Homo sapiens: one gene and its partners. The protein of the gene in region 5 purifies or fractionates together with the protein of the main gene of each other region. This does not show direct contact. Each region holds a gene or a part of one and is shown on either strand. Other genes may lie near its edges.

The links.
Region 1: the proteins of ABCC1 (region 5) and SEC63 fractionate together in Homo sapiens (co-fractionation; one large-scale study listed by BioGRID). This does not show direct contact.
Region 2: the proteins of ABCC1 (region 5) and NEO1 fractionate together in Homo sapiens (co-fractionation; one large-scale study listed by BioGRID). This does not show direct contact.
Region 3: the proteins of ABCC1 (region 5) and TMOD2 fractionate together in Homo sapiens (co-fractionation; one large-scale study listed by BioGRID). This does not show direct contact.
Region 4: the proteins of ABCC1 (region 5) and FADS3 purify together in Homo sapiens (co-immunoprecipitation; one large-scale study listed by IntAct). This does not show direct contact.
Region 6: the proteins of ABCC1 (region 5) and TBC1D9 fractionate together in Homo sapiens (co-fractionation; one large-scale study listed by BioGRID). This does not show direct contact.

Annotation. Positions count from the first base shown.
Region 1 is NC_000006.12:107,901,059-107,906,208, reverse strand, and holds part of SEC63 (translocation protein SEC63 homolog), read left to right. Parts: intron 1-1,487; coding exon 1,488-1,580; intron 1,581-3,210; coding exon 3,211-3,365; intron 3,366-4,691; coding exon 4,692-4,839; intron 4,840-5,150. UniProt on the Homo sapiens protein: Mediates cotranslational and post-translational transport of certain precursor polypeptides across endoplasmic reticulum (ER). Proposed to play an auxiliary role in recognition of precursors with short and apolar signal peptides.
Region 2 is NC_000015.10:73,050,564-73,056,345, forward strand, and holds the start of NEO1 (neogenin isoform 1 precursor), read left to right. Parts: upstream 1-1,899; 5' UTR 1,900-2,112; coding exon 2,113-2,242; intron 2,243-5,782. UniProt on the Homo sapiens protein: Multi-functional cell surface receptor regulating cell adhesion in many diverse developmental processes, including neural tube and mammary gland formation, myogenesis and angiogenesis.
Region 3 is NC_000015.10:51,764,283-51,769,432, forward strand, and holds part of TMOD2 (tropomodulin-2), read left to right. Parts: intron 1-2,090; 5' UTR 2,091-2,159; coding exon 2,160-2,285; intron 2,286-3,979; coding exon 3,980-4,136; intron 4,137-5,150. UniProt on the Homo sapiens protein: Blocks the elongation and depolymerization of the actin filaments at the pointed end. The Tmod/TM complex contributes to the formation of the short actin protofilament, which in turn defines the geometry of the membrane skeleton.
Region 4 is NC_000011.10:61,884,089-61,889,238, reverse strand, and holds part of FADS3 (fatty acid desaturase 3), read left to right. Parts: intron 1-2,479; exon of another isoform or gene 2,480-2,498; intron 2,499-5,150. UniProt on the Homo sapiens protein: Mammals have different sphingoid bases that differ in their length and/or pattern of desaturation and hydroxyl groups.
Region 5 is NC_000016.10:16,046,050-16,051,199, forward strand, and holds part of ABCC1 (multidrug resistance-associated protein 1), read left to right. Parts: intron 1-2,092; coding exon 2,093-2,254; intron 2,255-5,150.
Region 6 is NC_000004.12:140,679,366-140,684,515, reverse strand, and holds part of TBC1D9 (TBC1 domain family member 9), read left to right. Parts: intron 1-4,672; coding exon 4,673-4,901; intron 4,902-5,150. UniProt on the Homo sapiens protein: May act as a GTPase-activating protein for Rab family protein(s).

The DNA of each region.
Region 1 (5,150 bases), on a different chromosome or scaffold from region 5:
GGCAGAGCAAGTGTCTTCACATGGCCAGAGCAGGAGGAAGAGAGAGATGGGGGAGATGCCACACGTTTTTAAACAACCAGGTCTTGTGAGAAGTGTATCTCGAGAACAGCACCAAAGGGAGAACTCCACCCCCCTGATCCAATCACCTTCCACCAGGCCCCACCTCCAGCATTGGGGATTACCATTCAACATGAGATTTGGGTGGGGACACAGACCCAAACCATAGCATGGTGGTGCGGTGTGTTTTGTTGCTGTTCTTTTTTGGCCAAATAATTGCTCAAGGACTTTTTAAAAAAGAAATGTATATGCTACATAATTACTTCACAAATGGTTTGAAGATCTAAGTAAGTCAGACGTTTTGGCAAGTGTTAAAATTTAGTGTTTCAAGGTGAGAGAATGCTCTGTATAAGAAATGTTTAGTTAATTGCAGATCATACAAAAGTTCCTAATAATTTTTTTAAAGGACTTTGTAAGTTTTTGGAGGGAGCAAAATGGATTTCACAACAACCAACACCTCTCACCTCCCCATCTACAAGCTTCCTCCGACAGTGGTTACCAATAATGTCTGTTTTATAGTTATTTAAAGCTTCATAAGTACTTGAAGCCATGTATTCTGCTTAAAAGAAAAGTAGTTGATGGAGGCAACAGTGTTTCCAGGGATGTCATTAATTATCTCTTTTTCACCGACATTATTTCAGTTAAAGTTTTAAAAGACAGTTACTACCTCTAGGAAATAAATGTTCTTTTTGAATGATATCCTACCATCCCCCACCTCCTTTAAGGCAGTAATGCAGTTAAATGCTTCCGAAAACAAGGCCATGTGACGCTTAGTAATTGGTGATAGGACAGGATGCTTATGGTGGAATGAAGGAGCACTATTTAGGCAATATCATTGGAGTTGCTTTGAAATACTCAATTAACTAGTAATTCTGTTGCTAATGTTCTGTACAGATACATAAGCATCTCCATTTTTACTTACCTGTAAGAAGCAGGAAACAAATCATTGTTGAGTACCAAATCCATAGGTTAATGTGGTCTTAATAGTTAACTATTATATGCAGTATAAATGAAAGAGTCTTTCTCTTTCTGTAAGTTGCCCTCTTCTTCTCTTCTACGTCTCTTATCTCTCCCCCTGTATTTAGCTGACATATTTATTTTGACATATTTAGTTGATCTGCCTGCCTCAGCCTCCCAAAGTGCTGGGATTATAGGCGTGAGCCACCATGCCCAGCTGGGAGTTGGTTTATTAAGCCTAACATTATGATATTAAAAATTTGTCTTTGAAACGTCTAATCTGAGCTAGGGTTTTATGGCTGATTTTTGACATAGTGATACTGAGGAGAAACTCTTCCATTCAATCTGTAAAATTCTGAGATCATGTGAAATATTTGTGGCATAACTTTAATATTAGTTTTGGGCCACAGTGATAAAGATGCTTTAACTGTAAAATTAAAATGATCTGTTTCAGGTTTTTTATTGTTTTGCAGATCAGCAATTCATGCTAAAAAAGTGTCCTGCCCTACTTCAAGAAATGGTTAATGTAATCTGCCAACTAATAGTAATGGCCCGGAACCGTGAAGGTGAGGAGGAAATATAGTTAATTATGTTATACTTTTTCTTGCAAGCATATGCAGATTGTACTTCATATTTTAGGATTTATGGGTACTCAGACTTCTGTCGGCCAGTTCAGTGAGCTTCTTCAATTTTACTCATGTCTTTTCATATTTCTTTCCTATATTTTCTATTATTTAAAGTCTATATCACAGCTCACTGGGTTTTTTTTGTTCTTTTTTTTTTTTGAGATGGAGTCTTGCTTTGTCGCCCAGGCTGGAGTGCAGTGACAAAATCTTGGCTCTCTGCAACCTCTGCCTCCTGGGTTCAAGCGATTCTCCTGCCTCAGCCTCCTGAGCAGCTGGGATTACAGGCGCGTACCACCACACCTGGCTAATTTTTGTATTTTTGGTAGAGACAGGGTTTTACCATGTTGGCCAGGATGGTCTCCATCTCCTGACCTCGTGATCCACCTGCCTCAGCCTCCCAAAGCCCTGGTCACTGTGTTTTTGATTTTAATTCTTGTTTTTTTTTTTTTTGGAGACAGAGTCTCACTCTGTCGCCTAGGCTGGAGTGCAGTGGCGCGATCTTGGCTCACTGCAACCTCCGCCTCCCAGGGTCAAGTGATTCTCCTGCCTCAGCCTCCTGAGTAGCTGGCATTACAGGCGCATGCCACCACGCCCGGCTAATTTTTGTATTTTTAGTAGAGACGGGGTTTCATCAGGTTGGTCAGGCTGGTCTCAAACTCCTGACCTTGTGATCCACCTGCCTCAGCCTCCCAAAGTGCTGTGATTACAGGCATGATAATTTAATTATTTTATTGTTCAATTGTTTGCAAAGATTTAAAATTTCTCTTTCTTTGAATAATTTTTGAGTTAGGTCATTTTTTCTAACAGTGAATTTGAAATCTTTAACTGATATAAAAGTGATTCATATGTCATGTAATTTTTATTAATTAATTATAGACAGCATCTACCAGGGCTGGAGTCCAGTAGGGTAATCATAGCTCACTGCAGCCTCAAACTCCTGGGCTCAAGCAGTCCTTCTACCTTAGCTCTCCGAGTAGCTGGAACTACAGGTGCATACCACAGCACGGAGCTAACTTTACATTTTGTGTAGAGGTGGGATCTCACTTTGTCGCCCAGACTGGTCTGGTTTCCAACTCCTGGCTTTAAGCAATCCTCCCACTTCAGCTTCCCAAAGCCCTGGGATTACAGTCATGAGCCACATGCCTACAGGCACCTAGCCATTTTTTTTTTTTTGGTATGGAAGGAAAAGAATGAGGGAATTTCTGGTCAGTAATGGAAAGGAATGCCCTTAAAAAAGGATAGTGGTTATGGTTTGTTGTTACGGGTGATGTTGGTTCTTGTCATGGTGTCATATGTTGGTGATACTGATAATGTCTGATAATTTACTATTATTTGAGGTGAGGCAAATAATTTTTCTTTTAAATCAATGGTTGTTGCTGGAAAATGTTCATTAGATCGAGTTTGTATATTTTTAGTGTCTTCTCTGGTAACTTTTAAAGGAAAATCTTACTATGATCCTCAAATTTGAGGTGTTATGGATTTAGTGTGAATTTTGTTTTTGTGATGAATTGTATACTCCTGAACATGTAAAAAGTCCAGCCCTGTTTCTTTTTTTCCTGTTCTTTCTAAGAAAGGGAGTTTCGTGCTCCAACTTTGGCATCCCTAGAAAACTGCATGAAGCTTTCTCAGATGGCCGTTCAGGGACTTCAGCAATTTAAGTCTCCCCTTCTGCAGCTCCCTCATATTGAAGAGGACAATCTTAGACGGGTTTCTAATCATAAGAAGGTAATTCTTTGCTACTTTAAAGTCAGTTTTCAGCAGTTTGTCCTGTCACTTAAAGGTAACATGAATAAAAGTTTTCTGGAAATGGTTACTATGCATTTTTTAGATTTAGAATGTCTTAAATACTCTAAAACTTTCTCTCAGGTGGTTCTGTTAACATTTTCTTGACTAGGTAGCTGTGTTTTATAGTATTTTACTACTGTAAGTAGTTTTATTATTTTGGGGGTTGTTGCATTTAAAAAGTCAACAGTTAGTTCCTTATATTATGTTACCAAAAATAAATGTACTGTCTACTTTACAGTCATTTTATTCTTGGCTTAAGGTTGGGCAATTGTTTACTGGTTAAGCATGAACAACAAAAACATTTAATAAATCAAATAAAGACAGTTCTTATTTAGAATATATAATCTATAGTATAAACATGATAATGAATCTTAAGATATAACAAAAATTTGTGTAAATGAAAAACTTGAGGAAATATAAGAAACTGAAGTTACAATTCTAGTAGGAGATTTTAAACATTATTTTGTATATGATAGATAAAACTAGCAGAGAATAGACATTGGATTTGATAGTATATTAATGTAGAATTAATAAATGCATGTTGGAAATTAGTATCAGAGTTCTCTGTCCTTTTAAGTACTCATGTTCCCCTTATAAATTTGATTGTATGTTAAGTCATAATTAAAAACTTCAGAATCTAAAAGCAGAGATTTTACATGCCTCATGATCTAATCTGTGTCTTTGAAAGTGAAAAATAACTAGCACCAAACACCTGGAAAATTAAAGAACACGCTCCTAAGTAACCATTTTGCCAAGATGGATATTACTGTAGTAATAGCTATATTTTAAGAATAACAAAAATGAGAATATTGCATAGTAAAACTTTGAAGGTGCGTCTTTATTGAGGTTTATTTTTACTTTTATTAGGTAAAAGTAAACGTTTATTATTAAAGGTTTGTTAATAGTAAACCTATTAATTGCTAATTAAAGGTTTTTGTTATTAAAATTGAAAATAAACTGAGGACATCAATTGACAAAGTTCTTGGTTGAGTCAAGATTCTTATTTTTTCCCTCCAACTTTGTTTTTTCTAATTTAAAAAAATAAGCCTGTATTAACTTTATAATTTAAAAATTCTTAATTTAAATTTTCTTGGAGAAAAAGGTCATGAAATGCCATATCGTTATTTTGTACTTTGAAATGCACATTAATCAACACTTTTCTAAAAGTTGCTGGATTTTGTTGTGGTTAACATGTGAGTAATTTTCTTTTTATGAAAAGCTTTGTGAGTTAGGGAATTATGTATTTTCTTTTTTTTTTTTATTCAGTATAAAATTAAAACTATCCAGGATTTGGTGAGTTTAAAAGAATCAGATCGTCACACTCTACTGCACTTCCTTGAAGATGAAAAATATGAAGAGGTTATGGCTGTCCTTGGGAGTTTTCCATATGTGACCATGGATATAAAATCACAGGGTAAGTGGGAGGTTTCTCTGTTGAGCATTGCTTCCCTTTTGATAGATTGGTTCTCATTTATTTGACTCAGGATTCTCAAAACACTGTACTTAATAACATAACTTGTTATTAGACTTTGCAGAACTGTAGTTTACCTGTCAGATTTACTATGTTGGAAAATGATTTATACCTAATAGTTTGAGAACACTGATAGAGTCCTACTTTTATTATCCTCATAATGGGATGAAGTCTGAACACTCTGTTCTGTAGTTCAACTTTTAGCAATTTCTTAACTTTCCAAAGAATGATGAAGACTTCCAGGCATAATAAAA
Region 2 (5,782 bases), on a different chromosome or scaffold from region 5:
TATGAAAATCAGTCTGTTATTAGCCACAACTCATGTATTTTTCAAAACTTGGAGATAAATGTAAGCTTCATCTCAGAAGTCATATTACACGTTATAGGTTTAATATAATGAAATTTTTCCAGACTTAGAAAAGATATCAGGAAATTAACATTTGCAAGGCAATTTACAGTTTTCAAAGAGCTTTTCTCATTAATTATCTCAGAAAACTGAATAATGATGTGATTATTAAAGGTTAATTAAGCAAATACTTGTGAAGTAATTGGGAGGTAATCTATTTCTAATTTAACAGGTCAATCACGGGTATTTAGGAAATATTTTTGCTGGTTAACAACTCTAACCAAAACAAAAAGGTATTTAAATGGTTTCCCTAGTGAAAAACCATAAGCATGTGTTTCCTCTATTAAGTCAATTGTTTCAAAGAACTAGCATGAGAATTCCTAATTTCACCGTTTTGATGATTTAAGGTTTTATGAAGATTCTGAGCTCTTCCCTCCCGACGTTAATCCATGTCTTACATTGTTCATTTTGGCGCTTTAGAATAAAATATCTTTGGAAAGTAACTATGAGAAAGCACAGAGGGATATGTTAGTGAAATAGCCATTTTCTTGTGGGAAGCAAGACATTTCGGTTATCGACTACACAGAAGAGTGAATAAAACCCAACGCCTATCAACCACCAAACGTGACTCTGCTTGCATAATCATACAAATAAATTTTCTTTAAAAATTTTTCATGGGTGCAGTATATAAAATGATCAATAGTCTCATCAGCAGTGGAACTACAAACTGCTTTCTCCTAACTTTGTGTAGCCTGGGTGCTGCCTCACGATTACTAAGTGGTTTAAAATCATATCCCACTTGCTCCTTGGTTTATCAGCGAAAGACGTGATTCCCAGGTAGGAAAACGCCAAGTGTCCCGCAAAGGTACAGGTAAAACGTAGCAGTTACTGCGAGAAGACTGGCCCCGGGGAGTCCCAGGGCTCGGTCGGGGCCCCCGCACGAGCTGAGGAAGTGGACAGCGGGCACCTTTGTCTGTGCCTAGTTCCCTGGACCCGGGCCGAGCGATGCGGGTGGGGGCGCGGTTCGGGCGGGTCCCGGCGCTGCCCGGGGGAAGCGCGCGGCGACGGCGGCCCGGCTTGGGAGCCGGAGGTCAGCGGCTGCGCGGCCGGCCCCCTCCCACGGGAGCCGCGCCAGGGCCCAGCAAGAGTCGGGCGGGATCGCTATTGTTTTTGGCGAGCACATAAATCCCCGGGCCGACCCACTGCGCACCCAGGTTTCCTCCCGGAGGCCTTTCGGTTTCCTCTGAGGCCCTATATAGAGGCTCCAGGCCCGGACTGTGCAGAGGTGCGCGCCCACGCCGGCCTCCCGGACCAGCCTGAGCTCGGAGCGCCTCTCGCCCTCAGGTCTCTGCAGCCAGAGGCATCTGGGGAGGTGAGGGGGGAATTTGTCCCCGAGGCGAGGAGGAGGAGGCGGGGGCGCGCGGAGCCGAGGGGCTGCGGCGAGCGGGCGGGAGGAGCAGGAGGATCCGCTTCTCCGGGGTTTCCCTGACGCCAGCAGCAGCGCCCGGCGCGCGCGCCCCGCACCCGTCAGCGGCTCCGGGGAGAAGGGGGAGGGGAGCGGGCCCGCCACGGCCCGAGAGGCGGCAGCCGGGATTGGAGCGGGGGCGGGCCGCGCGCGGAGCCGAGGGGGTGCGGGCGAGGCGCGCGCGTGCGCGTGTGCGCGCCCGGGACTCCCGCCCCCCGCCCCCGCCCCCGCCCCCGCCGTCCGCGGTCTCCGCCCCCCTCGCGCTGGTGTGTGGAGCCGGAGTCGGCGGCGGGTGGCGGCGCCTGGAACCTGGAGACCGACCCACCGCCCCCCCCCCCCCGCCCCGGAATGTACTGACTCCCCTTCTTCGCTCTCCTCCCCTCCCCGCCCCCTTGCAGGAGGGAGGCGCCCTGGAGTCTCCCCTCCAGCGAGAGGGGCTGCGCGGGCCGGGCCGGGCCGGGCTGGGCTGGAGCAGCGGCGGCCGCGGGAGCCGAGCTTGCAGCGAGGGACCGGCTGAGGCGCGCGGGAGGGAAGGAGGCAAGGGCTCCGCGGCGCTGTCGCCGCCGCTGCCGCTCACTCTCGGGGAAGAGATGGCGGCGGAGCGGGGAGCCCGGCGACTCCTCAGCACCCCCTCCTTCTGGCTCTACTGCCTGCTGCTGCTCGGGCGCCGGGCGCCGGGCGCCGCGGCCGCCAGGAGCGGCTCCGCGCCGCAGTCCCCAGGTAAGCGGCGGGCGCGGGCCCGGGGGTTCGCGGGGGCGCGGCACCGGCTCAGGCGGCCGCGGCTGCGGTGTTTTTGTTTAGGATCCAGGAGGAAACGTGCAGGAACTTCTCTGCCTCGGCTCCGGTTGCCGAAGAGAAAGGGGATCGCGCGTGGTGGGGAGGAGAAGGGCGAGAGGGGGCGCCACCGGGGAAGGGGCGGCTGCCGGGGGGCAGGTCGGGGGCGCAGGGGTCTAGTTCCCAGCTTTGTACCTGGAGGCAGGTTCACCCCTCGCCTCTCTCCCCTCCCCCAGGCTCATCCCACTTGTAAGAGTGGGACATTCTTGTGCTCACACTAGCACCAGTAGAGGCCACTACACACCTCATTAAATAAACAATCAGACGGCCAATTCATTAATTTTCAGGAAAGGAAAGGGGAGGGGGCTTGAGCTCCTGGTTCCCTGGCCAGGGATTTCCCAGCTTCCGAAGTCTCGAGGAAGAGCTGGCTAGTCTCGAGGGACTCCTCGCGCGGGGATTGGAGCCCGAGTCTGCGGAAGAGCGGGGGTGTCAGAGGGGCACAATTGCCCGCTCACAACCCCTGGTGTTGATTTAACGATGAGGACGCCTTGGAGAGCGGCTCGGAGTGATCGTATCTGTTAGTGTTTCCGTTATGAAATGCCTCTTCTTTCCTGGGGATTACAACTATATTTACAGCCTATTAACCACTCTTAACCAAGGGAATTGTCTAAGCATCAGATTTTAGGTACTTGTACAATGTTTTCAGATGGCATTGTATAAACATTGAACCTCAAAAGCCATTTTCAGTTCTTTTTTGGAATATTATAGATTACTGAAACCACCTGCATTCCTATTAAGGGGACCAACGAACAAAAATGCCAAGCCTTCCGGGAAGGACCTTACGGTATTGTTGAGCAGGATACACTCAGCAGTTGAAAGGCAAATTAGCATGTAATCTGTTAAAATTATTTGACCAAGGTGGTGTACCATAAAACTTGACAAAACTTTCACTCGTGTGAGATATGATATTTTTACATTTGAAAGCAGTCTTACCGCTGAACCAGTACTTGTTTTTCCCTGATTTATATGAAATAATATTTAAAATCACACTGCAAGGTAACTTGACTGATAAACTTTTCATTTCCTTGCAGAGTGTGTATGTAGCTCATGGCTTTTGCCAATGTTAAAGAACAGCTTTAAACGTAAAGTACCACTCGGTATTCTCTAAACAGCTACGTAAACAATAGTGTTTTAATGTCAAATTAAACATCACTTATGTCATGATGTACCCTTATACATTCAGTCCGTATATGGTTTAGAACACATTTTGGTGCTGAAATGCAGGTTACTGATCCAACTGTCTCTTAGATGAGCAAGAGAAATATAACTATTTTGGAAAACAAGTTCCTGTTACTCATGATCTATTTTATATGGAAATTCATATGTAGTTCACCAAATTTCAAGTTTTTGTTTAAAGTTTTGCCGATAATTTTGTAAGTAACTAAAATGCTAGTAATTTTATTACTTAGGATAATAAAAATAATGCAAGCAGTCTCAGGAAGTGGTCTTAACATCTGTTTCAACATTAACTCAATTGACAGGTTTTTATTTTGCACAGATGAGGTGCAAGGCATATGCTCTCTGCCTTCATGGAGTTTACAGTCTGGTGTGTGGGTAGGAAAGATAGCCATCCATCTACTGATTATATAATTAAGTAATTGTGATAAGCACTACAAAGGAGAATAGGTTTTCACAAAGTGGGTACTGGAGTGACATAACCTAGTCTGGGTGTTAAGAGTGTCTCACAAGAACTGAGATCTGAGGAGTGGGTAGGAGTGGAGGTGGGGAGGCTCACAGGTAATTAGTCGTTTAATTGGGTCTAGAACATAGATCTCCTGATTCTCGGTCCAGAGTCCTTCCTGTAAACCGCTCTGCTTCATTACAAAAGCGAGAGGAATAACTGCAATAAGGAGGGGTTGGTCAGTTCTGCCATAAAACTGCGGAAGAGATCAAGAGACTGGAGAACTGAGTAAGCAGCAACTGGAACAAGCTGTCCGCAAATCAGATGTCCTTTGTCAGTAGTTTTATTTTTTTTATTTTTGTAGAGTGATAGACTTATAAATCTTTTTATAGGGGATTATAGTGAATAGATTGTAGGGAAGTGGACATGTTCAGTAGTAGAAGGTGGAGAAAAATAGAGATGTGGGACAATAGGATAAATGGAAAGTGTTTTTCCATCTGAGGTTATAGACATACGGAGGTGGAGGAAAAAGTAAGAAGTAAAGGACTGGTGATAGAAAATGGTCAGCAAGGGAGGAGGGTTGGAATTGAGTAGGAACATAATCTGGTATTCTGAAAAAGGGCAGATTACTGAAAAGATATGTAGAGACCTTGGGGAAGATGACATGGCAGCAGCCTGTGCAATGCATGTCTTCTCTATTTAGAGTGAACATTCTTCACCGAGGACTCTGTAGCTTCTGCCTGAACCATTTATTTCATGATGTGATTCATTGCCTTACAGGGTAGTCCATTTCTGTGTTGAATAACTTCTGTTAGAAAATGTTGCTTTGTACAGTACATTTCACTGTAGTTTTCACCCTCCCCACCCTTCTTACATTTTTTCCTCTTTGCTTACCTTTTTCAGCATTACTCTATCTTCAGGTTAATCTCTTCTCTGATTAATTCTTCATTTGTCTTTCTGGCTTTTCTTGAACTCACTCACTTAAATATTAGTATCTAAAGCTTATCTCATTATACATACTCTGTTTGCCCTCAGTTGCCACCTGTAAGCTAAGGACTCTCTTAGTCCACACTTTCTCACTTGCCACTCGGTACCTTCACTAAATAGGATCTTAGGTTACTGAAGTCCGAAGTTAAACTCTGTGTCATTTTCCCTCGTGCTTCCTTCATCCCCATTCTCTAAACATGAACAAACCAGTTCCTGGCCCCTGTGTCTCATGTTGTTGGAAGGATTGCATGGATTTGTCTTCTTGTGTTGCCTGTCTTGGTCATCACTGTTCATCCACTTGCCCAAGCTGAGATCAAGAAGACCTCCTCTTCCCATTGCCATAGCGGATAGTTCTTTTTGCTTTTTACCTCTCAGCTGTTTCTTGACTCTGAATCGGTATCTTTTCATCTTCATCCCCACCTGGACTAACAGTAGTGGCTCCATAATTAATCTCTTTGTCTGTACTGTTACCCTCTAGAAGTCTGTCCTGCTAGAATGAGCTTCCTGAAATATTTTCCTGAGCATGCCACTCTCCTACTTAAAATCTGTTACTAGTGTTCTGTAGCTTGGGTGTTAGAACTCTTTGGCATGGAGATTGTGAGGCCCTTTGTATTCTTTACCTCTGTTCTCCCAAACCCAATAAAGCCTCATCTCTTGTCACCCCTAACATGCACCTTGCATTCCACCACTCCAGATTAACGACACAGCTTCAGATCTCCGTGCCTTTGCACATGCTGTTCTTTCTGTTAAGTCACTTCTCACCTTGTCCACTTCTGAAACTCCTTATCTAGTCAATGAATTTTTCTCTACCAGCTTTC
Region 3 (5,150 bases), on a different chromosome or scaffold from region 5:
TTCCAGCCTGGGCAACAGAGGGAGACCCTATCTCTAAATTAATAAATAAGAAGCTGAGCTAATGGAAAAGAGCGTTGCATTGCATGTGAAAGGGGTATCGACACAGAAACCACAAACCTGAACATTGTGAGCCGTTGAATTCACAAAGGAAAGGGAACACTATTCCAATAGCCCTTAAGAGGCCCACCTGCAGCCAGTCTCGTTCCATGCCAACTCATTCTTCATTCTTATGATTTGAACTCATAAAAAAAGATTGGCGTGCTCAGATCACTCCCCTACTTTAAGAAGCTGTGGTGGCTTGCCATTCCCAACAGAATAAAGTTCAGGTCCCTTAGCAAGGCGCAGAAGGAAGGCCCTTCACAGATGTCCCACCCTCGTCTTTAGTTCTTTCCTCTCCCTTCCTCCATGAATCCCCCTCTGTAGCCATGCCGCCTGCTCTACCAGCATATCATTTACTGTCTTATCCTGTACCCCTTTGTGCTGTTCCCTTTTCCTAGAATGACACTTGCCCATTCATGTCCACCTTATGACCTCCTCCTTCAATGTTCAAACACAGCCTCTTTTTCACAGTTTCCCCTCAAACTTCCCCCACTTACTCAGTGATTATTTCCCCATGTGTTTTCAAACCTACTTTTTACATTATGTCTAATACTTACGGCATTATTGCTGTTTGTGTGAGAGTCTCACTAAGCTGTGATCTTGGGGAGAGGGGGCATTTTGATAAATATAATTTTTTTTTTGAGAGAGTCTCACTCTGTCACCCAGGCTGGAGTGCAGTGATGCCATCTCAGCACTGCAACCTCTGCCTCCCGGGTTCAAGCAATTCTCCTGCCTCAGCCTCCCGACTAGCTGGGACTACAGGCACATGCCACCACACCCAGCTAATTTTTGTATTTTTAGTAGAGATGGGGTTTCACCATATTGGTCAGGCTGGTCTCAAACTCCTGACCTCAGGTGATCCACCTGCCTTGGCCTTCCAAAGTGCTGGGATTACAGGCGTGAGCCAACGTTCCTGGCCTCCTCATGTGTTTTTAAACCTACTTTATACGTTACGTCTAATACTTATGACATTATTGCTATTTGTGTGCCTGTCTCACTAAGCTGTGATCTTCTTGGGGAAAGGTGGCATATCTTGTTTATCTTTGTATTTCTGTTTGCTAGAACTATGCCTGGCAAATAGTAGGTATATAACAAATATTTATTGGCCTGAAAGATGTGATTGGTGGTAATACCTCCTAAGGAGAAACACAGTCAGTGAAGTACATTACTGTTTCCTGAATGAGTATTATCTTTCTAAGGAAGATCTGTAGAATCCTCTGCAAGGAGAAAGGGATTGAGTAAAAATTGCATTTTGGGTGAATATTTAGAAGTGAGGTGGTATAAAAAATAAGGGTCGAGAGAAGAACGGTCTGAGGGTATAAAGAATGAATACGTAGAACAAAAAGGAAATGGGACTAGAAATAGAATGGAAAACAAAGCAAGGAGAAAAATAGAGAGAGTGATCATGTGGCCAGGATTTTAGAATCGCACTTAGTTTAATTGCAGGGGAGTTACTGGACAATGCTTTCTCACATAGACGTTCCAAACTCTCGTTCCTGAATGAATCCCATTTTGTATTCTTCACATCACTCTCTCCCTGAAAAGACACAAGTATGCTTCTTACAACTGCCTTACAATTAGTGCATTGTTCTCCCCTGTTTTTCTATGGAGAGCCAGGGAAGGCAGAGTAGTATAAGGGAAAAGCACCCACTATGCTGGGAATCAGAAGGCGGGGCTCACGCATCCCAGCTCTGTGACCTCGAGCAAGGCACTAGGCCACTTTCACCTCAGAATTGTCATCTATAAAATGGGAATGATAATATCGTCACGGGCTTCCTCACAGGATTGTTGTAAAGATCAAAATAAGTGAAATATGTGAAAACACTTTGTAAGCTGTCAGGTTGCTCTGCAAATGAAGGGAATATTACCTTTTTGTTGAATTATTCATTCAATACAGTAGGCTCCATTGGAGGCATACTTCTGTCTCCTGTTAATAAGTCCTGTTTACAGAACGGAGATTCTTTTTTATTGTGTTTCTTTTTTATTAACAGTATTCTGAAGTCTCAGGAAACTGGACCATTTAAATGTGCATGGCCCATGAGAAAGGCTTATAAGAAGCCATGGCACTCCCCTTTCAAAAAGAGCTGGAGAAATACAAGAACATTGATGAAGATGAGCTTCTTGGCAAACTCTCAGAAGAGGAACTGAAACAGTTGGAAAATGTTCTAGATGACCTAGATCCTGAGGTTAGTGACATGGAACTGAAGCAGAGTGGTTAATGATAGTATGGATAAATGGCATGGCTTGGTCCTTAAACAATGGTAGAAATCCCTTAGCTCGGAATGCACATTTTCTTTTCTTCCTCTGATTGGTTCTGGGTCACCTGTGTTTACAAATTCATAGAGAACCTCATAGCCACTACAGTGTGATACAGCAAATGTATTTCTCAAAAACCAGCCCAATGTAAATGGGGGGAAATATTTTCCGTTGGTTGAGAAAGGACTAGTCTTGTTTAGGGGAAAAAGAAGGAAAGAGGAAAAGAGAGCAAATCTTACTGAGTTTTTTCTGAGTCATATATTTCTCTGGGCACAGAAGCCCTTGAGGTAAACTTTATTAACCCCTAGACATGGAGAGGTAATTTATATAAGATTCCACACTGGTAAGTGTCAGAGATGGTATTTAAACCAGGTTTTTAGGCCCAAATGCAGAATTTTTTTTTTTTTTGAGACAGTCTCACTCTGTCACCCAGGCTGGAGTGCCGTGGCAAGATCTCGGCTCACTGCAACCTCTGCCTCCCAGATTCAAGCGATTCTCCTACCTCAGCCTCCCAGGTAGCTGAAATTATAGACACATGCCACCATGCCTGGCTGATTTTTATATTTTTAGTAGAGACGGGGTTTCGCCAGGTTGGCCATGTTGGTCTCGAATTCCTGACCTCAGGTGATCTGCCCACCTCAGCCTCCCAAAGTACTGGGATTATAGGCCTAAGCCACCACACCCGGCCCCAAACGCAGATTTTTAAAAATATCTCATTTCTTTCAAATGCACAAATAATGTGAACTCTTTGATGAACTTATAACAAAGAATAGATTAGACTGACTATAATCATGATACCAAGTTCATTTCAATGGAGTTTCTAATGTTTTTATAAGTTCTTGAAAAGCTAAGTCGCTTGTTATATTGTTTGATTAGCAAGCACTTTCTTCAGACCTGCTGGTATGATCTTAAACTTAGAATTAGCAGTACTTTTATAAAAAAAGATATGCTGGAAATTGCTCCGTGTAATTTTTTAAATAAAAAGTCAATTACGGTTAAAAAAAAAAAATCGGAGCCATCCAAAATAGTGATTTTACCATAAATAAAAATATAACTAAAACAAAATTATGTATATGGTATTCTGATATGTCAGATACTTTGGATATGGTATTTACTTTTAAAAATACAGATATTCTGTTGTTGTTTTTTTAAATTAAGGAAGGAATCTGAAAGCTTTATCAAGCAGGCATTAACATCATCATAGTGTTTACTTATCAGCTTTACTGCTTCTGCAGGAGAGGGGTTCCCCATGTCAGCTCCTTGTTAGAGTCTCATGTTTCTGCCTGGGAGCACCTTGGGTGCAGCCCTAGCCAAACCTAAGCATGATCTACAAGGAAAGAGGTCTTTTGCCTCCATGTTTTAGGAGGCAGCTTCAGAAACTCAGAGGCTGCTCTAGCCATCTATGCGCTGCTTGAGCTCATTGGGAGCCCCCTCTCAGCACTGAACATTATAACAAATAGGGCCTCAGAGGCGTCCCAGAGCCCCCAGCCCTCAGCTCACACGCACATTCTGCGTAGGTATCCTTCCTGCTTCCCCAGCACATAGTGAGTGGGGGTGGAAGAGGAAGTAGCAAAGTACAGGCCGGCAGACATCTTCCTTCCTGCTCACACCTCTTTCTTGTCAGAGTGCCATGCTGCCAGCTGGATTTCGACAGAAAGACCAGACACAGAAGGCAGCCACCGGCCCCTTTGACCGCGAGCACCTCCTCATGTACCTGGAGAAGGAGGCTTTGGAACAGAAAGACAGAGAGGACTTTGTGCCCTTCACTGGAGAAAAGAAAGGTAAGGACCACAGGCAGAGCATCTTGGAACAGAGGTTCTCTCTTTTTTTTTTTTGGAACGGAGGCACTCTTAATTAAGATTACCTCTTTTTATTTTATTGTCGTGGAGGATCAAGCAAGGGAACTGTCCCAGACATGGGAAATAAGCCCATGAATTGGATTCAGTATTTATTTTATTGTCGTGGAGGGTCAAGCAAGGGAACTGTCCGGGAAATGGGAAATAAGCCCATGAACTGGATTCAGTATTTATTTTATTGTCGTGGAGGGTCAAGCAAGGGAACTGTCTGGGAAATGGGAAATAAGCCCATGAACTAGATTCAGTATTTATTTTATTGTCGTGGAGGGTCAAGCAAGGGAACTGTCCCGGAAATGGGAAATAAGCCCATGAACTGGATTCAGTATTTATTTTATTGTCGTGGAGGGTCAAGCAAGGGAACTGTCCCGGAAATGGGAAATAAGCCCATGAACTGGAGTCGGTGTTAAAAAGAATCATGGCTGCTAGCTAGACATATGTCATTCTACATTGGGCCAAACCCATAAGATGTGTAACACCAAGAGTGAACCCTAATGGAAACTGTGGACATTGGGTGATAATGATGTGTCCATGATGGTTCATCAGTTGTAGTATAAGTATCGCTATGGTATAGGATGCCATTAGTCAGGGGAGGATGAGTTGGGGAGAGTACATTGAAAGAAAAAAGAAACACGATCAAATATGTAGGCTAACTGCTTATGGTGTGATGGTTCTCAAATTAGTTTAGTGAAAACATCTCGAACCCCAAAGAAAGTTTTGAAAATGTGAGGTGGTGTCATGCCTGAGAGTTTCCTAGGCACTGGTGTATTTCTCTTAGCCTGGTGCTTTACCAACTTCAGAAGTCCCTCAAGGCCTTCTGCTCCATGTCCAGGATGGCTCTAGCACTGCATCCCTAACCTTAGAGGCTACCATTAAAGTCTAGTGCAGTCATTCATGCATCCATCATCTACTGAGTGCCTCCTCTGTGCAGAGGCTTGTGGC
Region 4 (5,150 bases), on a different chromosome or scaffold from region 5:
CATTGATTCGCAGCCAATAATATCTGTTTTAAAAACATCTCAGGCCGAGCGCTGTGGCTCACACCTGTAATCCCAGCACTTTGGGAGGCTGAGGTGGGCAGATCACCTGAGGTCGGGAGTTTGAGACCAGCCTGACCAACATGGAGAAACCCTGTCTCTTCTAAAAAAATACAAAATTAGCCAGGCGTGGTGGCGCATGCCTGTAATCCCAGCACTTTGGGAGGCTGAGGCAGGAGAATCGCTTGAACCCAGGAGACGGAGGTTCCGGTGAGCCGAGATCGCGCCATTGCACTCCAGCCTGGGCAACAAGAGCAAAACTCCGTCTCAAACAAACAAACAAAAAACATCTCTCTGCTCCTTGGGGCCGGGTGCCAGCTCTGCTATTGGAGGCACTGAGCGACCTTGAAGCAGGCATGTCACTCCTCTGTGCCCCAGTTTACTCATCTGTAAAGTGGGAGAGCTGGGGCAGACAGTGAGCTGGCTGAGGGCAGGACTGTGTCTCCTCAAGCCCATGGCCCAGGGCTGCCAGGTAGTAGTTTGTATTCGGTAAATGCTGCTGGCCCCTAAGTGTGAGCGTGCCCTGCAAACTGCAGCGTATGGTGGGACAGCCCTGCACGGCTACCCCTTTCCTGGGTGACCTTATTTGGTTACGGTCCTATCTGAAGTAGGAAAGGGACACTTTAGGCTGTCTCTTAGCTCCCTCAAGGCCCCACAGCCTGGACTAGAGTTGCCAGAAATACTTGGTCCATTCAGGCCAAAGGGACTGTGAGGTTGCTGGGATGGTGCAATCAGTCTTTGTCCATGATGAACCCACAGGGTAGACCAGGGGTTGGGCCAGCCCAGTGCCCTGTGTAGTTGAGCCCAGGCCCCAGGCATCCCATCCCGGGCGGTGGCCTCAGGTGGAGGTGGGGCAGCCAGTTGCCAGGGATGTGTTCCAGCGGTCACCTCTCACCAGCCCCGGCTGCCCATCAGCTGTTCTCAAGTCCAGGCAATGAAGCCTTCCTGCCAGGAAATTCCCAGAGTTTCTGTGCCATGAAGTCAGCCTGTGGCCATCTTGGGACACAAGGCCGGGTGCCCTGGGGAGAGTACTCTGGGCCCTTGGCCAGGTTTGTCTGAGAGTCATAGGCAGCCTGATACTAGTGGAGCCAGCCAGGGAGGGATGAGGCCCAGCCGCTGCTGGCCATAAGTATATAAGGGCCATGTGCTGAGTGCCTACTATGTGCCAGGTTTTGAAATCAGTACTTGATTTATTGAAACCCTCTCTTTTAATCCTCAAGGTGCCCCTATGAGGCACGTACCATTTATTGTTATTGCCACTTGACAGATGAGAAAACAGAGGCTCAGAGAGGCAAAGTGGCTTGAAATTCAGTGATTGGTCTGGGATTTGAATCCACAGCCATGTTCTTAAGGGCATGCTATGCTGCCACCTATCCTGTTTATTTCCGGCACTCATTGATTCTTCAATGTTTGACTCATTAAATCCATCAGTGAGCATCTTCTCTGTGTCATGCATGGTTCTCACCTCTGAAGATGTAGCTGTGAGCAAAACTTCTACAGGGAATGAGTTCACAGCAGAGGGATCAGCTAGAGCAAAGGCTCAGAGGTGGGACCGTGCGTCCTGTGTTCCAGGAATACAGTATGGCTGCAGCAGAGAGCAGTGGAGAGAGGGCCTGGCAGTGAGGTCTAGAGGCGGCCGGGCTGGCTCATGCTGGATGTTTGTGTCCTCGGAAGGACTTTGGCTTTATTTTAAAGAGGATGGGGAGCCCCAGAGAGCACAGCAGGGAAGCCTGGGGAGTCTGATGGACATTTAAAAGGATCCTTAATGGAGAGAGTGAAGGCAGAGCCTTCCAGAAGGGTAAGAGAAGGGAGGATGGAGACCTGCCCTCCCCCAAGGGAGGCCACTCAGAAGAGGTAGAGTGTGGCCAGGGCAGAGAGCAAGAGAGGCTGTGGACACAGGCACACTGGTCCAGTGAGAGCCATTAGACACATTAGATTTAGCTTCATGTTGTCTTTAGAGAGGGAGCCAGCCTGGCCTCGCTCTATGATCTTGGACACATCCTTTCACTTCTGGGTCTCAGTTTCCCCATTAGTGTGATGAGGATGAGAATGCTTTTGTCCTGGGCACACTATGAGGGTGGTGCTGGGCACCTGGGTGCCTGGTTACCATGGGCAACAAAGCTCTATTCATGGGTGTGGTGAATGCATTGCCCACAGCAACTCAGGGCGGATGAGGAGTTTCCCAGCAGCCCCTGGTGCCCTTTCGGCTGAAGCCCTAACAACTGTGGGAAAATCCAAGTTCCAGCAGACCCCCTGAGCCCTCTGCCTTAGGACCCTCCTTCTAGGTGGTTCTCTGAGCCTGGCCTGAGCTGGAGGAGGGAGTGGCCAGTGCTGCAGCAGAGGCTGCTTCATAGTAATTGCAGCCAACAGTTATTGACTAGGCACTGTTCTGAGGGGTTTAGATGTGGTAACTGATTGAATTCGCCTAACAACTTTATGAGGTAAGTCCTATTGTTAGCCCATTTTGTAGATGAGGAGACTGAGTTTGAAACTGGGGGGTGTAATGGAACCTTCTCAGGACCCTTGAAGGGTAGGGCCTTTGTACTCGGGCCACGAGGGTGGGGTTTGTGTCTGGGTGGGAGCTGGGGAGGGACAGGACTAGGATTAGGCAGATCTGAGGCCACAGGAGTTGGTTGGGGGGTGGCTCCAGAGCCACTCCACTCCCTCCTACCACATTGACTGCCTTGAAAGTCCCCTAATGGCCACTCCCATGAAGTGTGACTGCTCTGGGCTCCCCGCAGGCGTTTTCTGCAAGGCCACCGCCCACCCAGGCCCCTTCCCCAGAGGGGCTGCAGTGCCTTGCTCCTTCCTTGTGGGAAGAGTTGGGATTGTCTGGCGTCAGCAGGATACTGCCCCTGGGCATCCCTCCCGGTCTCTTCCTGCGGGTTTCTGATGAAACAGCCAGGCTCCAGTAGTGGAGCCAGAGGTCAGTGGTGGAGAGAGGACCAGGAGCCAGAGGGTATAGCTGCTTTGGGGCTACTGTGGGGTCAGGGACACTTGTGAGGCCAAGCGTCCTGGCTGCAGGAGCCCTCACATATATGCCCACCCTTCACCAGGACATTGAGGGGTGCTGGGGGACAGGGGTAGCTTTTTGGGGGTGTCTGCCTTCGACTTGGGCTCCGCTACACAGGCCAAATTTGGATGTCCCATGTTTAGAGCTGTGTTTCTTTGGGACCTCTTGGGGCCTCAGTTTCCTCATCTGTAAAATGGGATACTGATAGTGCTTCCCCACTGGCCTCCTCTGACGGGCGCCAGGGAGAGGATGGGACGGAGCATGGTGTGCTGGGCACGCTCCTGCTGTACCCACCCACCTGGGAGAGGGGAGAGGCAGGAATGTCCTGGGGGTGTCCTTTGAGGCATAGCCCTGTCACCCCAACATCCTACAAAGGCATGAGAAGGCAGCGAGGACAGACCCCGACCACCTGAGCCCTCAGCAGCCCTGCCACACTCCCTGCTTCACCCCCTTCCTGACTGATCTGGCACATTCTTGATTCTCCTAGGGAGTGACCCAAAATCCCTCCCTGCCCTGCTGTGTCTCTGGGGTGGAAGGAGGCTGCCAGCCCCTCCTCTCTCCCAGCCTCAGGCTTGGCCAGGACTTAACAGGCAGGCAGAGAAGCAGCTTCTCCACTCTCTTCCCTGACACCTGTAGGCCCCTCCTGCAGGCACTTACCTCTAAGTGGACTCTCAGGAGGAGGCTCATCAGGGCTGCAGGGCTCAGAAAGAGCTGGGCTGTGGAGCTCTTGCCAACCGCCAGGCCCCTTCTAAGTGCTTTAGCGCCACCGACTGCATCCTCCCAGCAGCCTTGTGAGATGGGGATTTGTGGTTCCCAGTTTACTGATGAGAAATACTGATGAGAGATGGGTGTGGTCTTGTCTGGGGCTCCCTGGCTCCTGGATAGCAGCTCAGGTTCCATCCTGGGCAGGCTGGCTCTGGGACACCCCCCCGACCAGCTGCTGTGTGGGATTCACGGTGGGGCTTGGGCAGGGCGTGGGATCTTGGGGCCAACTGAGCCACTCTAGGCTTCCAGGGACCAAGGCCAGGCTGAGCTGTCTCTGTATCCTGAGAGAGCATGAACATCACAGAAGATGGGCCCGGGTTCGAATCCCAGCTCTGCCACTACTAACTGGGACCTGGGCAGGTGTCCCTTCCCGCTGAGCCTTCATTTCCTCACCAGCAAAATGGTTCGTGCCCCTGCTTTGGGGGCTGTGGAGGGTTGGCTCTTGTCTACTTGTTCATACCTGCTGTTGAGCAGCTGCTCTGTGCCGGCCTCTGAGGATGCCACTGTGAACAGAGCCTGTCGCTACCTCCAGGAGCTTGTGTTTAGGGGTGCCGTTTTGATTCCAGCACTTTCACCCAGCTCTGCTCCGGTACCCGATGAGAGACGTCGAGTGCCGCTTTCCACTCGCTTGGGTGCGTGTGGGGGTTGGGGGGACAGGGCTTTGTGCACGTACCCCTGGGTGGATGTTCCTGGGTGCACTTAGGGTGTGTGAGGGTGGGACCTCCCACAGTTCCCTGAGGCTCCACTGATGAGGTCCAAGAACCGCCTTCCTGCCCCCCAGCCCAGGCTCCCAGCAGCTGGGCCCTTGGCTTCTTGAGATAGTGACTGGCCTCACGGCAAGGACCCCCGCACACCACCTAGGAGAACTGCTGCTTCCCCTCTGTTCCAGGAGTGGCGACAAGCACAGTTTTTCGCTTTTGTTTTTGTTTTCTTCACTTTAAGTTCCGGGAAACGTGCAGAATGTGCAGGTTTGTTACATAGGTATACATGTGCCATGGTGGTTTGCTGCACCCGTCAACCCCTCATCTAGGTTTTAAGCTCCATATACATTAGGCATTTGTCCTAATGCTCTCCCTCCCCTTGCCCCTCACCCGCCCAGTAAGCCCCGGTGTGTGATGTTCCCTTCCCTGTGTCCATGTGTTCTCATTGTTCAACTCTCACTTATGAGTGAGAAGAGACCTGGACTCTGATCTAACCTCGGTCAAATGGAACTGTGTGACCTTGAAGAAGTAGCTTAACCTCTCTGAGTCTTAGCTTCTGCCTGGCACCCCCATCCTTAAGGAGAGGCCCACAGAGGACCAGGTCACATGACCTC
Region 5 (5,150 bases):
TCCACATCCCCTCCTGCAGCCCTGGGTTACTCTGGGGCCAGCGTGGGGATTTCCAGCCCAGCTTCTGGAGCAGTAGGATGAGGGTAGCTTCCGTGACCTTAGGTGGCAGGGACAGCACGCATCAGGCATTGTACGTTAGGAAAGCTGATTTCAAGGGTGGGCGTGTAGATGTCTTTGTGTATCAGCTGTGAGTAATTGAGTTTCTTAGATGGATCAGTGGCCCTTGTTGTGGGGAAATCCAAGTTTGGATCCTCATTCTGCTGTTAACATTCTGTGTTTCAGCTTGTTGTCACTCTTTTTTTTTCGTTTTTTTGAGACCAGGTCTCACTCTCTCCCCCAGACTGGAGTGCAGTGGCATGATATTGGCTCACTGCAACTTCTGCCTCCTGAGTTCAAGCGATTCTTCTGCCTCAGCCTCCTGAGTAGCGGGGACTACAGGCGCCTGCCACCACGACCGGCTAATTTTTGTATTTTTAGTAGAGACAGGGTTTCGCCATGTTGGCCAGGCTGATCTTGAACTGCTGACCTCAGGTGATCCGCCTGCCTCAGCCTCCCAAAGTGCTGGGATTACAGGCATGAGCCACCGCGCCCAGCCTGTTGTCACTCTTAATTTGAACTGAGCAGGTGGCACATTCCTTGCATGGTAAGAGTATGTAGCAGGCATTTGTGTACATCCAATTTCAAAGGACCTAAATTACCTTCTTGATCCCTATAAATTTTTTTTTTTTTTTGTCTCGAGGTCAAGGAAACTGCTTGGCTCCTAGGTTAGGAAGAGACAGTCTTGCAGGTACTTGATGAACTAGAGGAGTGATTCTCAGGCCTGTCTGTGAATTAGACTCACCTGGGGAGCTTAAACTGATGCAGGCCAGGCACTGTAGCTCATGCCTGTAATCCCAGCAGCTTGGGAGACCAAGGTGGGGGAATCACTGGAGGCTTGGAAGTTCAATACCAGCCTGGTCAATATAGCAAGACCCTGGCTCTGCAGAAAATTTAAAAAAATTAGCCAGGTATGGTGGTGCGTACCTGTAGTCCCGTCTACTCAGGAGATTGAGTTAAAAGAATCACTTCAGCCCCGGAGTTGGAGGCTGCAGTGAGTCCTGATAGCATCCCTGCATTCCGGCCTGTGTGACAGAATGAGACCCTGTCTGAAAAAACAAAAAAACTTCCTGACACCTAGGTTGCACCAGACCAGTGAAATTGCGATTGCTGTGGTGGCACCCAGGTGTCATTGTTTTTGTTTTTTATTTATTTTTATGTTTTGAGACAGGGTCTCGCTCTGTCACCCAGGCTAGAGTGCAGTGGCATGATCTTGGCTCACTGCAGCCTCCACCTCCTGGGCTCAAACGATCCTGCCACCTCAGCCCACCACGTAGCTGGGCCCAGAGGCATGCATCACCACGCCTGCTAATGTCTTAGTGTTTTTAAAACTCACGAGGTGATAGTGTGCAATCATGTTTGAGGGCTAGGGACATTTTCCCCCACCAGGGCACGTTTGGCAATATCTGGGGGCATTTTCGGTTGTCCCAACTGGGGGCGAGGGCATGTAGTGGGTCGAGGCCAGGTATTGCTGCTAAAACTCCTACAGTGCGCAGGACAGCCCCCCAAAGAATTATCTGGCTCCAGATGTCAAGAATGCCAAGGATTAGAGACCCTGGCCCACACCCTCAGTCCTTCAGTGGGATCTGGGACCAGTAGCACTGACACAGCCTGGAAGCGTAGAAATGCAGAATCCCAGGCCACACCCCAGACTTGCAGAATCCAAAACAACTCCCCCCACCCCCCACCACTCCCCCCAGAAAAACCCGGCCGCATGTGTGCACATTAAAGCATGCGAAGCCCTGGTTTCGAGGACACCTAGGGTCCCTTGCCAACTGATGAGTTCAAGGTTGGGAGGCACTGAGCACCGCGGATAAGAATGTGGGCTTTGAGATGACACAGGCGTCCTGGGCAGACAGATAGGTCGGGAGGGGAGGAGGAGAGATCTGCGGCATTTCTGCCCCTGAGAGTCTCCTTCCTCTCCGTGGGTCTGGAGGGAGAGTCAGGCCTCTTCAGCTGCCACACTCACCCACCTTCCCTCTCCTTTGTCCCACAGGCCCTGGTGATCACCAATTCAGCCAGAAAATCCTCCACGGTCGGGGAGATTGTCAACCTCATGTCTGTGGACGCTCAGAGGTTCATGGACTTGGCCACGTACATTAACATGATCTGGTCAGCCCCCCTGCAAGTCATCCTTGCTCTCTACCTCCTGTGGCTGGTGTGTGTTTAACGCCGTTTCCCTTTGCATGCAGGGAGGGACTTCTACGTGTGGGCAGTGGGCCGAGGGAGTGGGTGTTGATGGTAATGGCATGTAGAGCTCCCTGGCAGTTCCGGCTGTGGTTCATATTTTATTTTCCAGCCTGTTAACCAATTCCTCAGTATTTTGTTCCTTTCCTGAATTGTCAGGTTGATGTTCTCCTTGGTGGCATGGCGTTTTCATTTTCTCTTTTCCTTGACAGTGTCAGTAATTAACTACCCTACAATGGACGACACATCATATTTCTCCCCTTGAATCCTCCCAAACGCTAACCAGACTCACTTATTCATTAGTCCCTAATTATGGTGGTCAAAATTCTCTCAATTGCAAGGGATATAAATCTGTCTTAAAGTAGCCTAAGTGGCCGGTTGCAGAGGCTCACGCCTGTAATCCCAGCACTTTGGGAGGCCGAGGCGGGCAGATCACCTGAGATCAGGAGTTCGAGACCAGCCTCAACGTGGAGAAACCCCGTCTCTACTAAAAATACAAAATGAGCTGGGCGTGGTGGTGTATGCCTGTAATGCCAGCTACCTGGGAGGCTGAGACAGGAGAATTGCTTGAACCTGGAAGGCGGAGGTTGCGGTGAGCCGAGATTGGGCCATTGCACTCCAGCCTGGGCAACAAGAGTGAAACTCCAATTCCAAAAAAAAAAAAAAGTAGCCTAAGTAAATAGAGGGAACTTTGGGGCTGCATGTATCTCAGAAATCTGGGGACTAGCTTCAGGTGTGGATTGATCCAGGAGATCAAGCAATGTTGTCAGTACTCAGTTTCACCCACTGCCCTGTTGTCCTCTGAGTTAACATCATTCTCAGTGGTACTTCCCTACATGGCTCCGTAGCTTTGGGCTGATAACATCCTGATAGATAAAGGTGCCAGAGAAAAGACAAGGCAGCATTTCTCTGCACAGCCAGAGTCAGTCTCAGAGAGCACTCTGATTAGCCTGGCTTGGTCCTATTCACACCCGTGAACCAATCACTGTGGCCCAGGAGGCAGAGTTCTCTCATTGGCCAGCCTGGGTCACATGTCCTCTCCCATGGCAGAAGAGATGTGATTGACAGCCCTTCCATGTGGAGAGGGAGAGTTCCCAAAATAAAATGATAAGCAAAGAGGCTCATAGCACAACACATGCCTTGTGCTTTGCTACCTCTGGATCTTTGCCACGTACCTTTCCTTCCTTCTTCCTAATTGATGAAAGCCTGCTCATCCCCCAAGGCTGTAACAAACACTACTTCCATTGATTTACCCTCCCTTCTCAATTAGATGGACTTCTTCTTTTGAATTTTGAGTCCCAATAACTTTAGTATAGGAACTCATCTAATAATACTTTCTGAAATAGTTTTTTTTGTTTTGTTTTTGTTTTGACATGGAGTCGCGCTCTGTTGCCCAGGCTGGAGTGTGGTGTGCCATCTTGGCTCGCTGCAACCTCTGCCTCCCAGCTTCAAGCAATTCTCCTACCTCAGTCTCCCGAGTAGCTGGGACTACAGGCTTACACCACCACGCCCATTAAATTTTCTTTTTTTTTTGTATTTTTAGTAGAGACAGTGTTTGATCATGTTGGCTAGGCTGATCTTGAACTCCTGGCCTCAGGTGATCTACCCTCTGTGGTCTCCCAAAGTGTTGGAATTACAGGCGTGAGCCACCGTGCCCAGCCCACTCCCTGAAATAGTTTTGTTTTGTTTTTTTTGCATGCTCAGTGTACTGCCTCCTCTTTGAAGGGTAACATGTTAGCTACTTGCAGACATATAGCAGCTGACTTTTGTGTCTTCTGTGGGTACAACCCCAGCAGGGCCTGATGCATAATGGGCACAGCTCAAATTATTATCTGTTATTGAAAGAGAAGGGCTGGACGAAATGGCTCATGCTTGTGATCTGAACACTTTGGGAGGCCAAGGCGGGTGGATCATCTGAGGCCAGGAGAGCAGCCTGGCCAACATGGCAAAACCCCGTCTCTACTAAAAATATAAACATTAGTCAGGCATGGTGGTGTATGCCTATAATCTCAACTACTTGGGTGGCTGAGGCAGGAGAATGGCCTGAATCCGGGAGGCGGAGGTTGTATTGAGCTGAGTTTGTACCACTGCATACCAGCTTGGGCAACAGAGCGAGACTCTGTCTCAAAAAAAAGAAAAAGGAAGAAGAAAAAATTACTGGTTTATTTGGCTGTAGTTTGGTTTTTTTTTGTACATTTGTAGAGCAGAAGGTGAGTAAAGTGTTTCTAATAATAAAACTCAGAAAAAACACCAGAATTTAATTGTCTAATAGGCTGGGTACAGATATAGGTGGCATGCGCCTGTAATCCCTGCACTTTGGGAGGCTGAGGTGGAAGGATTGCTTGAAGCCAGGAGTTTGAGACCAGCCTGGGCAACATAGTGAGACCCTGTCTCTACAAAAAAAAAAAAAAAAAAAAAAAATTAGCTGGGCATGGTGGTGCCTACCTGTGGTCCCAGCTACCGTGGAGGCTGAGGCAGGAGGATTGCTTGAGCCTAGGAGTGCAGAGGCTGCAGTAAGCTAGGATCACACCACTGCACTCCTACCTGGGTGACAAGGCAAGACCCTGTCTCTAGAAGAAAAAAAAAATCTAAATAAAGTGTCTTTTCAAGCAGGTGTCTTGGGGAGTCCACTTTTGTAAAAGTGCTACTATGGGAAAAATATTTTTGGAACATTTGTTCTAGAACTGCCTTCAGGATTGGTTTATGAACCGTTAAGAAAATTGTCTAACATCACGTTTTGTTTTAGATGGTAGTTGCTTGAGCTCAGCACTGTTGACACTTGGGGCCAGACAGTTCTTTGTTGTGGGGGCTGTCTTTTTTTTTTGTTCTTGTTATTGTTTTTTTTGTTTTTTTAAGGGACAGAGTCT
Region 6 (5,150 bases), on a different chromosome or scaffold from region 5:
TTAATTCCCCTGAAACCAATTATGAGGAGGGATTTGCTATTAATGCAGTTATGTGTGAAAGAATGTCATTCATGTGCAGATGAATGGTTTAAGCATTCACATATTGTCCAATAATCAAGGGAACCAACAAAGTTATTTGTTTTGAGACCTAATTAACTTTTATAAATCATAAATGTAATAGTTAACTACAGATGCAACCATAATCCAAACACCTTATGTAGCATTTTGTGTATTTCTTACCAGACCTCCCTTTTCTTAACTTTTTTTTTTTTTTTAATTAGGGACAGAGACTCACTACATTGCCCAGACTGGTCTTGAACTCCTAGGCTCAAGCAATCCACCCACCTCAGCTTCCCAAAGTGCTGGAAGTACAGGCCTAAGACACCATGCCCGGCCTCCCCACTTCTAATATGCATATTGTCATAATAGAAGTCTCATGTACATATAATTTTGTTCTCGTCTTTTTTTCTTGACCAGTATCTACAATATTGTTATATAATTTTTAGTTATTATTCCATAATTGACTTTACCATTTCTGTCTTTCTAGAAGTCACCTTAGCTTCTAGACTAGTGGATGGCAGGTACAAATAAAAATCCAGTTAATACTTTTGTTCAAACAGTGTAACTTTACCCACAGGCTGTGTTTTTCCCCCTTTGGGATAGATTACAAAATTTGGATGAATGGGTTAAGTAGTTTAAGTATTTTTAATAGACCTTAGTAGATATTGTCAGTTAGAATCTCTGTGTGATTACAGCATTGCTTGCTTTCAGCATTTTGGTTGTTGAAATTATTTTTCAAATATAATAGGTAGAAGTTAAAGCCTTAATGTTTTAGTTTTGTCTTTGGTTATTATGGGGTTGAATATTTTTTCATGTTTGCTAAGTTAAATTTCTCCTTTTTGTAAATTACCTGTTAATATTCTTTTGCATATTTAAATTTATATTGAACATCTGATATAATAGGATTTTCCAAAGTCATGAGAAGCTGTTGCCTAGAACTGGAATGACCTATTTTATATTATGCGAAACCTGTAGAAAAACCTGTAGAACCTGGGAAGGAGCTATTCTATCCCTGTATTCCATAATCTAGTCTACCTGGCTAAAAAATTATAGCCAACTAAGAAAGGGTTCTACATTCTGGATTATTTCCTTTTTTAGTGTTGAGAAAGTTGGTATTTTAGCCTTATGGAGACTATTAGCCTTACTGTTGAAATGAGCTGGCAAAGCCTTGTCTCTTGATACTAGTATATTAGACCCTAGAGTGTTTCTGAGTGATGGTTCTTGACTGTATTTACTCTCATATATAAAAGCATTTTCTCTTTAAAATTTCAATGAGCAGGCCAGGTGCGGTGGCTCACACCTGTAATCCCAGCACTTTGGGAGGCTGAGGCAGGCAGATCACCTGAGGTCAGGAGTTCGAGACCAGCCTGACCAACATGCAGAAATCAAAAATACAAAAAAATTAGCCAGGCGTGGTGGTGCATGCCTGTAATCCCAGCTACTCGGGAAGCTGAGGCAGGAGAATCACTTGAACCCAGGAGATGGAGGTTGCAGTGAGCTAAGATCGAGCTATTGCACTCCAGCCTGGGCAACAAGAGCAAAACTCCATCTCGAAAATAAATAAATAAATAAATTCAGTGAGCACTCTAGAAATGTGGTATTTAATAGATCTTTAGATAGCATACTTCTGCTTATGGTTTGTTATATGTCACTCATTCTCACATTCTCCTCATTTTGACTTTAGGTAAGAGCGCTACTACAGTGACCCAGGAGAATAGCATGTTAGCCCACTTGAGGGTCTCCAGGCTTCTCTAAGTTGTTAGCCTTTGGTGATTCCCTGGAGGCCCAGCTGCTGCTTTCTGTTAGCAGGTTCTCATTCAGTTATTTTTATTTACTCATTCATTTATTTAATCTTTCATTCATAGATATTTTTTGATCCTTCTCTAAAGGCACTGACAACTTTGAAATGTCACATAGGCCACAGGTGTATTTGCCAACTGCGAAAGGCATTTTTCATCCCTTTTCCCTTCTGAATTGACTTCTCCTTCCCACCCACGGGTCCCATGCCCTCATGCTGCCTTCAGTTGTCTGAAGTTCTTAAAGTAACACTACCAACGCCTGCTTGTCCCTAGAATAGCCTGGGTCCAAAATTGAGCTCCCTCCTGGCCTTCATCGAGCTTAATGTCTTTGTTCTCTTGGTAGAGTGATATCAGTGGTAAATAGAGGAAAATATCCTTATGTTAGATATTTTTCCAGGGAAGCACATTGCTACTTCTATTGCTATCCATAATGCCCTCCAGTATGACAGAGGAACAGAAGTTAGCAACTTGGTACCTAATTTCTCAGGCATTGCTAACTCCAAAACAATTGTAGATTTAGAAATCTGCAACTCTGGATTATACAATAAAGACTAAGATATGGCCCCTTAAGATATCTTTTAATTTGGAAAAACAACAACATGGATTCATTTAGTAATATTGAACATCTTTTAGGTGCTAGATATTGGTGATTAAAATGTTCGAGACATTCTTTTTATCTTTGGAATTCATATTTAGTGGTAGAAGGACATATAAACATGCTATTTTCTGCCAGCATGTAAATTAAGACAACATAGACGTGAGAATGCTTAGAACCCATTTGGAATTGGGCTGGTTTCACAGGGAAGGTGGTATTTATGCTGGACCTGGAAAGGTTGACTTGGGAAGATTGAGAGCAGATTTTATGGGTTAAGATTCAGTGCAGATTTCTTTTCTCTTTCACTGAGAGCCTGTGGAAGATTATAAGGTGGGAATACTGTAGTCAGATCTCTGTTTCAGAAAGTGGCCATGTGAAGTAAATTGGAGTGTGGAGAGTGTTGTCAGGATGCCATTTGAGAAGCTATTATATAGTAATTCCTGGACTGTGTAGAGGGACTTTGGGATGCTTTTGTTAGAAGAATAGGATAAAGACTTGTCTTGGGGCTGTGCTTGCATCGTAAGCCCACCATTTGCTGTTATGATTATTGTCTACATGCTTACTTTTAACTAGAATAGGACAGTGACAGAGATTATAGAAGACTGAAGCCCTTTCTCCTGCCATCCACTCAGCAGCATCACAACTACCGGCAACAGGGTGAAAGGTCTGCAGTGGAAATAAGACTCAGGAAATGATTTCAATACATAATGCAGAGAGAATCAACATTACTTCATGTGGGGGGAAAAGAATGATAGTTGAGAAAAGGCTCACAAGAGACTTTGAGACTTGGTAGGATTCACGAAACAGAACAGTCTGATTCCAGATTTCAGGCATGTAGAATGGGAGGGCCATAGGCAAAAAGGTGGGAAAGTGCAGAAATGACATGTTCAGGCCCCAAGGGTGCCTCAGGCTGGCTGGAGCACAGTTACTAACGGGACATTTGGGTAGGATGTAGTCCAGTGAGAAAAAGTTGCGGCATTGGTTGGATCCAAAAATGTACATGGGTCTAGGCTACTCTGGGCACACTGCCTGTGGGTTACCCTGCTTCACAAGGAGCAGCCAGTCTGCAATAAAAATAAAAATTAAAACATTAAAACAAACAAAGTGTACATGATCTAGATTTTTGGACTTTATACTGGTGGTGGTTAGAAACCACTAAGTATTTTGGTAAGAATTTTGTGGTCAAATCCATTTTAGGAAGACAAATTTTTAGGGAGCATCAAGGATGCACTAGAAGCTTTAAGAGCCCAAAAAGCAGGAATTCTAGGTATGAGGAGGCAGTTGCAATTTTCTATCCTTGGGCTACAGAGAGCTCAGTCATGTCAATGAGAATCTGAGAAGTTGGCCAAGGCTACACAGATACAGTGATGCGGTGGGAGCACGAATCTAAGACTTGCATGCTCTAAAGGTCATGCATTTTCAGTTCTACCTTGAGATCAGAGAAAATGAAGATGAGGCGGGAGGGATTTGAGGATTACAAAGTCAAAGGTGGAATTCAAGGGAGCATTTTCCATCGAGATATATGTAGAAGCCAATTTTCAGGGAATTACAGAGGAACTGGGTAACAGTGAAATGGCTTCTCAAGTTATTATAATGATTGAATGGTAGATTAACCTGGTCACTTGCTATGCAGATGTTTCATTTCCTGTCTAACTGTCCAAAAATCCTGCATCTAATATAATTTTTGCTCTCATATCTACCCCTTTTCTGCTCAGATGATTACTCGTTTTTCCCTGTAGGCTCCCCAGTGTTATTCATGGCCCTGAGACAGTGAGTGTGGAGCTGAGTGTCAGTTGGTGACATGTGTTTGGTCTTTCTTTCCTCACTGGCTCATTCATGATGAATTTTTATTAATCTTGGAGAAAGGCAGAAGTTGACTTTTGAGACAATTCTACCATAATAAGCTTAGTAAAAACACTAGGACTAGCAAAATCTTTGTATCTCTTCATTTGTAAAGTAAAACTATAGGCTTCATTCCTAGTAAACTTAACAAAATAAAATTAGCACCAATAAAAATATAATAAAATCTATATTATGTGAAAATATTTTAGTACACAAATACTACTCAATAATTGGCTTAGAATTTGGGGGTTGCCATTGAAGGGCATTCCTCAATTTTTTTTTTTAATTCTAGCCTTAGAAATTTTTTCTTCTGGAATATGTACATCTCTAGTCATATTAATACCAGTTGTGTGCTTTGTGTTTTATTCCTTATTAGGGCATCATTGCAGAATACAACAAAATCAATGATGTAAAGGAAGATGATGACACGGAGAAGTTTAAAGAAGCCATTGTGAAATTTCATAGGCTGTTTGGGATGCCAGAGGAAGAGAAACTCGTCAACTATTACTCTTGCAGCTATTGGAAGGGGAAGGTCCCCCGTCAGGGTTGGATGTACCTCAGCATTAACCACCTTTGCTTTTATTCTTTTCTTATGGGAAGGGAAGGTAAGTCATCTAAAATTTCAGCAGGAAACTTTGGAAAGTCTACTGAGGTTTGCCCTGAACTCATAAACCACATCAAAATATCAGAAATAAATCTATAGTTATAACTAAGTCAATACTAATTTTTTTTTACTACTGAAGTGAATTTAATTATTTTTCAGTTCAAAATGGTCACTAAGTAATAAAGATTCACTAAAGGTGTAATTAATTCAGTAGACATGGATTAAATCTATAATTCTGACCTCAGAATTC